Linked DNA regions of Homo sapiens: region 2 is reported to be linked to region 1. Evidence: microRNA targets listed by miRTarBase, many of them from high-throughput screens and not tested one by one. Region 1 holds a microRNA gene; the other region holds the end of a gene's coding sequence.
The links. The annotated mature microRNA hsa-miR-1183 reads CACUGUAGGUGAUGGUGAGAGUGGGCA and lies in region 1 at 3,485-3,511, opposite strand. An mRNA with a match to its seed (bases 2 to 7 or 8) in the 3' UTR can be bound and repressed. Matches are read on the target gene's strand: a 7mer-m8 pairs with bases 2 to 8, a 7mer-A1 pairs with bases 2 to 7 and ends in A, and an 8mer does both.

Region 2: the mRNA of GATA6 is a reported target of hsa-miR-1183. The part of its 3' UTR that is shown has no 7-base or 8-base seed match.

Annotation. Positions count from the first base shown.
Region 1 is chr7:21,469,439-21,474,615 of GRCh38, reverse strand. It overlaps MIR1183 (microRNA 1183), which reads right to left and starts at 3,558; the gene lies at 3,470-3,558. All of the region lies in intron 3 of SP4 (Sp4 transcription factor), which reads right to left.
Region 2 is chr18:22,200,118-22,205,117 of GRCh38, forward strand. It overlaps GATA6 (GATA binding protein 6), which reads left to right. Exons shown (of 7, transcript NM_005257.6): 7 at 539-2,411. The coding sequence ends at 706. Among named protein-coding and RNA genes, the nearest start is that of GATA6, 33 kb to the left of the region's middle.

The DNA of each region.
Region 1 (5,177 bases):
AAATTATAAAGCAATACATAAACAAAAGGTATAATTATTTTGTTTCAGTGTTTTTGAACATGTATTCAGTAAAACTAGATGGCTTAAGGATGACCTTGGCTACAAAATCTATTCAAACTACTTGTGTACCAAGAAGCACAGTGATACACACACTTTGTTTACTGCAAAAAATGCATTTCTAGAAATGAGAGTACTGTCTGAACAAGCACTATACAAAATCTACAGCATGGTCCCTATGGAGCTGCAGGTATTTTAAGTTGGTAAGTACCCTTTACATCCCCTGAAGACACAGGTATTTTTGGCCGTGATTCTCTGACTACTTTTCTCATAACATTTATATAACAGTCATTACTTTAAAGGTCGCAATAATATTTAAGATGACCTTTATTTTGGTAAAGAACTGCTAGATGAGTTTCAAGTCAAAGCTAAGTCTGGGGGTGAGGGGTGGGGAAGAACTGCTAGAGATTCCTGATCCCTCTGGTCCCCTGACCATGTCCTTGACACACTCCTCAAGCCTCCATATTGTGAGCATTTCTTTGTTCAATGCCTAAACAACTTGGAAAGTTATTTCAATGAATAACAGAGGCAAATTATATTTGAGTTTGTATATTGAAGCCCGTTAATTGACTTCATCTAGATGTTTCACAGACAGCTAAGTTCAACATACTGCTTTATTTCCACTGCCATCAGTAAGCCACCAAACTCCAGAGCAAGACCTCCGAGGCCCCACTTAAGTTTAATTCTATTGACTTCTCAGAGCTCATCTCTATTAGTCTCTCCCTTGCTCACTCTGCACCTGATATACTGGCCTCTCTTCTGGCCCTCAAATAAATCAAGCTCATTTCCTTCTTAGGGACTTTGCATATACTCTCCAGTCTAAGTGGGGATGCCTTTGCACCCAGATCTTTGCATAGTTGATTCCTTTGTAATATTCTGGTCTGAGTTCAAATCTCTCCTCTTTAGAAATGCCATTCCTGACCATCCCATCTAAAAGCTCCCCTCAATATATCACTGTATCATCACCTAGTTTTGTCTTATTTGTCTTAAATTACTTTGTCCTTTTATAATTTGGTCTTCACCTCACTTCTGAAGGTAAAGTGCCATGAAAGTAGGGATCTTGCCTATTATGTTCACTGCTGTATCTCTAGTACCGTAACAGTGCCTAATAACTCAATAACAGTGCCACTCAATAGCATATGCTTAATAAATCAAAGTTTAAAAATAAAAAATGATTTCATCTTCCAGTCTTGCTTCTGCTAATGTCCCTGTTTCAGTAAATGCTACCCCTATTCTCCTTGTTATCCACACTGAAAACCTTAAAATGTCATCTTTTAGGCTACTTCTTTACTCATTACATCCAGTGATGACCAAATTTTGAAGACACTACTGCCTAACAGCTCTTACGCTAACCTGTTTCCAAGCAAGATTATCATCTTGATCCAAGCCCTTGTTCAATCTGTGCCTCTACCAACCTAAATTGAGCTTTCCCTCCTTTCTCATCCTTCACACTGCTGCCAGAAAAATAAAAAAGTAGTGTTCTGATCATCTCACTTTCGTGCTCAATAACATTTAATCATTCTTCCACCGACCAAAGTCTGGCATTCAAAGCACTCTACCACAAGGACTTACTCAGCTCCTGGTTCACAGTCTTCCTTCTAATGACCAAATCTATTGTGCATTTTTTCAGTGACCATTACAGGACTGCTCTGCTGCATTTGACACCACTCGCCACTCCATCCTTATTCAATTTTGACTCTGTGAGCTAACTTCCTACATTTCAGAAACCCCTTCTTCTCTGTTAGCTCCTTTTTGTTTGGTTGCTTTTTTTTTTCTTTTTTTTTAAGAGATGGGGGTCTCACTCTGCTGTTCAGACCAGTCTTGAACTCCAGGGCTCAAGCAATTCTCCTGCCTTGGTCTCCCAAGTAGCTGAGATTACAGGCATGCACCACCATGCATGGCCTTAGCAATTTTTTAAAATCAGCACTTAAATCTAAATTTATGTCACTTTCTGAAAAGATTTATCAGCCAGGTGCAGTGGCTCACACCTGTAATCCCCGCACTTTGGGAGGCCGAGGCAGGAGGACTGCTTGAGCCCAGGAGTTCAAGACCAACCTAGGCAACGCAGTGAGATGCCATCTCTTAAAAAAATTAAAAAATTAGCCAGGCATGGTGGCATGTGCCTGTAGTCCTGGCTACTCATGAGAATGAGGTGCTGAGGTGAGAGGATCACTTGAGCCCTGGGGATCAAGACTTCAGTGAGCCGTGATGGCACCACTGTACTTCAACTTCAGCCTGGGTGACAGAGAAAGTCCCTCTCAAAAACAAACAAACAAACAAACAATCAAACAAAATACACCCTCTACTCTTCCTAGGCCACTCTCCAGGGTTCTGACTTCTCATTCTAACTCTCTTCTTGGGGGACCTCATCTACTTTCATAACTTTTACTGCTATGTGTAAGCTGATTAACTCACAGATCTGTGCCTTCCACTCAGAAGTGTCATACTCTTACTATCAACTGCCAGTGAACACTTCCACCTGAATCCTCACAAGCAATCTAAGAACCAGATAGCTTAGCCCACTTTCCTAATATAGCTCTTTTTCACCATTCAAATAGAAAATTTGGAAGTCATTCTTGATTCCTCTCTATCTCCTTCACCCTGACAACAAGAGCAACTATTGTTTTATATCTACTATGTGGTAAGGCACTTTACTGGATGTTTTCCATATATTGTTTCACATCCCTATGGGCTAAATATTACTGTCCCAAATTTTTATTTTTAATAAATGGAGTCTTGCTCTCTTGCCCAGGCTAGAGTACAGCGGCACAATCATGGCTTACTGTAGCCTCTAACTCTTGGACTCAAGCAATCCTCCTGCCTCAGCCTCCTGAGTAGTTGGGACTACAGATGCATGCCACCACACCTAGTTAATTTTTAAAATTCTTTTAGAGATTATGTCTCACTATGTTGCCCACGCTACACTCAAACTCCTGACCTCAAGTGATCCTCCTGCCTCAGCCTCCCAAGTAGCTGGGACTATAGGCACAAGCCATGGCACCCAGCTTACTGTCCCAATTAAGATGAGAAAACTAAGGTTCTCAGGGGTATGTAAAACATCCAAGATCCTAAAATGGAAAAGTGACAGAGCTGGGATTTGAACCCACACTTATCCAACTCAAAAAGCTATTCTCTTTCCACCATATACATTATCTATGTTGATCATAAGTCCCTGTTAAGTCTACCTCTTCAAAATATCTCAAATGTCTCCATTTTCACCATACCTATTGCTTGTACACTAGTGCAAGCCCTTATCACCAGTTTTGCCCCTTCTAATATTCATATTGCAGACCTAGCTCCCCAAAAAGCCAATGGGCCCTCCATACATTCACAATAAGGTCAGTATTTCTTAGCATAGTACATAAAGTTCTTCATGATCTAACTCCTGCTTAGTTTTATAACTTCATCTCTTGGCACTCCTGCTCCATGCCCACTCTCACCATCACCTACAGTGAACTCCTGTCTTCTCTAATGTTCTGTGTCTCCGAGCATTTGAATAATATAGCTGGAATCCAACACATTCTCCCACCCCAAACCTCCATCTCCCTTGGTCTGACAAAAGTCTATTCATCTTACAGATTTTAGTCTTTAATCCTTCTTACCAATGAAACTGCTTTGTAAAATAATTTTTTTAATAACTCAAAATTTCTTGGTATTGTAACTACACATTATGGTGAAACAGACTGAGGATGGCCGTTCTTTTATTTTTCTTCCACATTACCAGAGGTAAAACATTCCAAGGCTGCTTGGAGCAGCCAAGCCATCTTTCTTATTCCTTTTTTGTTCTGCTTTTTTTTTTTTTTTTTTTTCCAAATATAGAAACTGGGCCAAGGTAATGGAGGGGGACAGTTTGTTGGTAGGTAGTAAGACATCTGAATTGCTAACTATTCAACAAGATCTAGCTTGTTGGACATTTCTTGCTCATTTTCTTTTAGTACCAGTAGTTTTTTGCCTTAGTAGAGTAGTAAAATTTGAGACGACTTGAATTTAAGCTAACACGTAGAAAGGAAAGTCAGGTTTAGCTGGTAAAGGAAAAAGGCATATTCCATATAGAATAACCTAGTTCTCTGGATTGTGAGGCAGGGGCCTATGCCTAAGCCAACAAATTCTAACTTGAATTTTGGTATACCTAGCTCCCTAAGGGATCTCAAGAATTGGTTGAATTAGAATTTAAGTATTTCTGGTCTTACTAGTAAGACACCATCTCACTCCATCATAATATTAGTCATAAATTATTTCCAACAAAAGCTGCTCAAGAAAGAGGCCATCTGTGTGGTTTTTATGTCATTTGTCCTTTGGCTACCAAGGTTCCTGACACACTGAAAGTACTTAATGAATGTTTCTTAAATAAAGCGAATGATAATCTAAAATCTATACAAACATAGAAGCTTTCTTACGAAACTCGGCCAGCAGTATATCACAGGGCTGCTAAATGACAGCTAGTTTACAATACACATGCACATGGGTGACAAGACAGTAAGAAACCAAATCAAGTGGATATCTGCTACACTTCCTCCCTGACTCACTGATATGGCAGTCAGATCATTTAGAAGCAGATCCCAGAGCATAACTCTCAACCTTGGTTCTGAAACTATGTACTACTCTCTCAGGTATCAGATTTCTCCTATGACATTTGCTATCTACATTCAGCAAGGTGTTTTTTTTTTGAAAAGAGTATTATAAAAATATTAACTCTAAAAAATTATAGGCCCAGCATGGTGGCTCATGACTGTAATTGCAGCACTTTGGGAGGCCGAGGTAGGTGGATCACAAGGTCAGGAGTTTGAGACCAACTAGTCCTAGCCTGGCCAATATGGTGAAATCTTGTCTCTACTAAAAATACAAAAAAATTAGCCGGGTGTGGTGGCGGGCACCTGTAGTCCCAGCTACTTGGTAGGCTGAGGCAAGAGAATCACTTGGATCCGGGAGGCGGAGGTTGCAGTGAGTGGAGATCTCACCACTGCACTCCAGCCTGGGCGACAGAGCAAGACTCCGTCTCAAAAAAAAAAAAAAAAAAATTATAACTAAACTTGCCATTTAGGGAATAGGCTAAGATTTCTCCCTTTCTACCTATTTTGATGAAAATAAATAGTTTAGTATTACAAACACATACACTTTAA
Region 2 (5,000 bases), not on the chromosome of region 1:
GTGCAGCTTTTCTAAAAAGTCTAAAAAGACTTTGCCATCACTGGATAAGCCTTGTTAGAGTGTGTGTGTGTGTGTGTGTGTGTGCGCGCGCACGCATGCGTGCGCTCTGCATTTTCTCTTTGGAAATGATCAGGTTGTGTGTGCATCATTAATGCCTATTCACCCACACAGTGAGGTTTGTTTCACAGTCAGAGATCTTAGAGCTTGGCACTTTTTACAAATAGGATTTCTTCAGTTCCCCTTCCTTTTGTCCAGCTTTGCATCTTGCCAGTGGCTCCTGCCCTGAGTTCTAAAGTTTCGAAGGCTTAAGTGGCCAGGGTCAGGTCAGTGGCACTGTGTGCAATGCAGGGAAAGGCCCCCACTTGCTGGGGGCAGGGGATAGTAACGCCGGCTTCATTTCTCCTGCCCTGGGTCTGCCCAGGAGCAGCTCTGGCCCTGGCTGCACAGACCCGTTCATTAGCTCCCATGTATTTCACTACCAGGATTGTAACCGCTTCTCACCTTCTCGTCTCTCCTCTGTGTCCCCCTCTTCTGCCAGGCGGGTGCCCCGGTGATGACTGGTGCGGGAGAGAGCACCAATCCCGAGAACAGCGAGCTCAAGTATTCGGGTCAAGATGGGCTCTACATAGGCGTCAGTCTCGCCTCGCCGGCCGAAGTCACGTCCTCCGTGCGACCGGATTCCTGGTGCGCCCTGGCCCTGGCCTGAGCCCACGCCGCCAGGAGGCAGGGAGGGCTCCGCCGCGGGCCTCACTCCACTCGTGTCTGCTTTTGTGCAGCGGTCCAGACAGTGGCGACTGCGCTGACAGAACGTGATTCTCGTGCCTTTATTTTGAAAGAGATGTTTTTCCCAAGAGGCTTGCTGAAAGAGTGAGAGAAGATGGAAGGGAAGGGCCAGTGCAACTGGGCGCTTGGGCCACTCCAGCCAGCCCGCCTCCGGGGCGGACCCTGCTCCACTTCCAGAAGCCAGGACTAGGACCTGGGCCTTGCCTGCTATGGAATATTGAGAGAGATTTTTTAAAAAAGATTTTGCATTTTGTCCAAAATCATGTGCTTCTTCTGATCAATTTTGGTTGTTCCAGAATTTCTTCATACCTTTTCCACATCCAGATTTCATGTGCGTTCATGGAGAAGATCACTTGAGGCCATTTGGTACACATCTCTGGAGGCTGAGTCGGTTCATGAGGTCTCTTATCAAAAATATTACTCAGTTTGCAAGACTGCATTGTAACTTTAACATACACTGTGACTGACGTTTCTCAAAGTTCATATTGTGTGGCTGATCTGAAGTCAGTCGGAATTTGTAAACAGGGTAGCAAACAAGATATTTTTCTTCCATGTATACAATAATTTTTTTAAAAAGTGCAATTTGCGTTGCAGCAATCAGTGTTAAATCATTTGCATAAGATTTAACAGCATTTTTTATAATGAATGTAAACATTTTAACTTAATGGTACTTAAAATAATTTAAAAGAAAAATGTTAACTTAGACATTCTTATGCTTCTTTTACAACTACATCCCATTTTATATTTCCAATTGTTAAAGAAAAATATTTCAAGAACAAATCTTCTCTCAGGAAAATTGCCTTTCTCTATTTGTTAAGAATTTTTATACAAGAACACCAATATACCCCCTTTATTTTACTGTGGAATATGTGCTGGAAAAATTGCAACAACACTTTACTACCTAACGGATAGCATTTGTAAATACTCTAGGTATCTGTAAACACTCTGATGAAGTCTGTATAGTGTGACTAACCCACAGGCAGGTTGGTTTACATTAATTTTTTTTTTTGAATGGGATGTCCTATGGAAACCTATTTCACCAGAGTTTTAAAAATAAAAAGGGTATTGTTTTGTCTTCTGTACAGTGAGTTCCTTCCCTTTTCAAAGCTTTCTTTTTATGCTGTATGTGACTATAGATATTCATATAAAACAAGTGCACGTGAAGTTTGCAAAATGCTTTAAGGCCTTCCTTTCAAAGCATAGTCCTTTTGGAGCCGTTTTGTACCTTTTATACCTTGGCTTATTTGAAGTTGACACATGGGGTTAGTTACTACTCTCCATGTGCATTGGGGACAGTTTTTATAAGTGGGAAGGACTCAGTATTATTATATTTGAGATGATAAGCATTTTGTTTGGGAACAATGCTTAAAAATATTCCAGAAAGTTCAGATTTTTTTTCTTTGTGAATGAAATATATTCTGGCCCACGAACAGGGCGATTTCCTTTCAGTTTTTTCCTTTTGCAACGTGCCTTGAAGTCTCAAAGCTCACCTGAGGTTGCAGACGTTACCCCCAACAGAAGATAGGTAGAAATGATTCCAGTGGCCTCTTTGTATTTTCTTCATTGTTGAGTAGATTTCAGGAAATCAGGAGGTGTTTCACAATACAGAATGATGGCCTTTAACTGTGGCTCCCTGAGTGTACAGTATTTTTTTACTTCTTTTCATGCACTTATTACAGTCATTCTATGGGGTTCAGTCTGAATCTTTCAAGAGAAGGAATGTCTTCCTTAGTCCTGGTGAATGCTACTCTATAGAGGGACAGTGTCCATAGCCAGTGTGTGTGTGTGTGTGTGTTTCTGGGTAATTCAGTAAGGCCCACGTGCACCCTGATATCATAAGGTGGGCCAGAACAATGGTTAAGAGTGTTGGGTATGCAGGCAGATCACTAGGCTTCAATTCCCTGCTTGGCCGTGGATAAGCTCTGTGACCTTGGGCAAGTTATCCAGCTCTCATCTTTCTAATATAAAATAAAGGCAAATAGTATATAAATCACAGGATTAAGTGAGATAGTCCATGCCAAGTGCTTAGCACAATACCTGGCACATATTAAGTACTAACTTGACTTTGAAAGAGAGTGGCATGATTTGCAACATAGATCCTTTGAATAATGTCTGACTACCTGGAATATCAGAAGTTTATGGTCTGTAAGAGTGATGTCCTGTGGGTCACCTGTGCTTCTTCAACAAGGCCAAGAAGAGTGAAATGAAAGACTCCCTCTAATCCAGGGGGTTGCAGAAATGGAGGGAGGATGCATGAGAGCTGATTGTTTTATAATAGAACAAGGCTGTTCTGACAACAGAAGAAAATTATTATCCCCACGAACTGATGTCTGTTTTCCTCCCTCCTTTTATGGTTCTCATTACTTTGAGTGCTTTTTGGTGGGTTGGGAGTTGTTAAAGTTAATATGGTTTGATTGGAAAATGAATTTTTCTTTTTGGGGCTTCCAAATGACCCTTTTTCTGGGATAATCTCAAATATTGCTCCTTCCAATTCTAAAAAGAATTCTAGTTTTTATGAAACAAATTACAGTGGGCAGAAGACAGAGGGGGCTTCTTGTAGCCTGTCCTAACACAATGAACTCCACTATCTGTTTTTAAATGATTACTTTCTTACCTATGATTGCATAAAGAAGTTTGTTAAATTTGCTCCAAATACACAATTTCAGCACTCCTCTCCCAAAGTATGACATGTGCAACTGAACATGACCCAATCATTTCTCAAAAGGGAATGCATTCAAATAGATGCTGCACCTCAGCTTAAAGAATCCCCAGACCGTATATCGTGGACTGGAGAATTTATGTCTTCTGTCACACATGGCTGATTTGAGGCCATCTTAAATAAGTGAAGGCTCTGTCTGGGGTCTCTTTTCAGGGTCACTTAATGTTGTTTCCTGGTGCTTATGGGAGGGTCAGGAAAGCAAAGGGAACCATTCATTTCCCAGTGCAAATAAATTAACTTCTTGCTCATGGGAAATGTTTTTCACAGTCCTTGGAAATTTGATGTAATTTCAGATCACAGATAAATTGGCTGCTTTGCTGGGAGGGCAACCCAGCGAGTCTTCAATGCTGTGCCAGATTCCAGGGTGAGTTCAGGTTGGAGCAGTGTAGTGGGGAGAAAGGTGGCAGGCAGAAGCAAATATTTTCAGAATCAGGCAGTGCTGGCTTATTAAGATGCTTCTCTCTCTCTCTCTCTCTCTCTCTCTCTCTCCCTCCCTCCCTCTCTCTCTCCCTCTCTCTCTCTCTCCCCCTCCCTCCCTCCCTCCCTCTCTCTCCCTCCCTCCCTCTCTCTCTCTTTCTTTTCTTTTTCTTTCTTTCTCCCTTCCTTCCTTCCCTTCCCTTCCTCCCTTCCTTCTTCCCTTCCCTTCCCCTTCCTTCCTTCCTTTCTTTCTCTTTCTTTCTTTCTTTCTTTCGCTCTCTCTTCCTCCCTCCCTCTCTTTCTCTCTCTTTCTTTTTCTTTCTTTCCTTCTTTCTTTCTTTCTTTTTCTTTCTTTCTCCCTTCCCTTCCCTTCCCTTCCCCTCTCCTCCCCTCCCCCCCTCTCTTTCTTTCTTCTTTCTTTCTTTCTTTTTTTCTTTCTTTCTTTGAGACAAAGTCTGGCTGTGTCACCCAGGCTGGAGAGCAGTGGCACAATCATAGCTCACTTGCAGCCTCAACTTTCTGGGCTCAAGTGATCCTTCCCCCTCAGCCTCCCAAAGTGCTAGTATTATAGGCGTGAGCCACTGCACCTGGCTAAAATGCATTTTGTTTCTGGGTTGAAATACTAGCAAGTCAGTGTGGCAATACTAGTTATCTTCTGTTGCTTGGGAGCTCTAATTGGCAGTCAGATATGCTTTGATTATTTTAAATGGGAAACATATTAATAAACTTGCTAGACCAAATCTTTCAGAATAGGGTCTGTGGGAAAAAATGTGGTACCTACAGGTCTGGCTGCTTGAGGCTCCTGGATGGATTCTGTGTGGCTGAACCTTCAGCAGCTGCATTCTGAGAAGGCCACTTCGCTTATGACCTTCTGGTGGGGCTGGGATCAGGCAGGAGAAGGTGATAGACATCAGTAGGACAGGCAGAAGAGGAGTCAAAGGGTGTTTTCAGTTGGTTCAACTTCAAGATAAAGGATGCCAGAAAGTCTTAGTTTATAGGGACTTTGGATAAATATATTGTGGTTGATAGTTCCAAATTGCTTCTAAGGAAAGTTAGGACGTTGCAGGTGCGTGTCTGCACC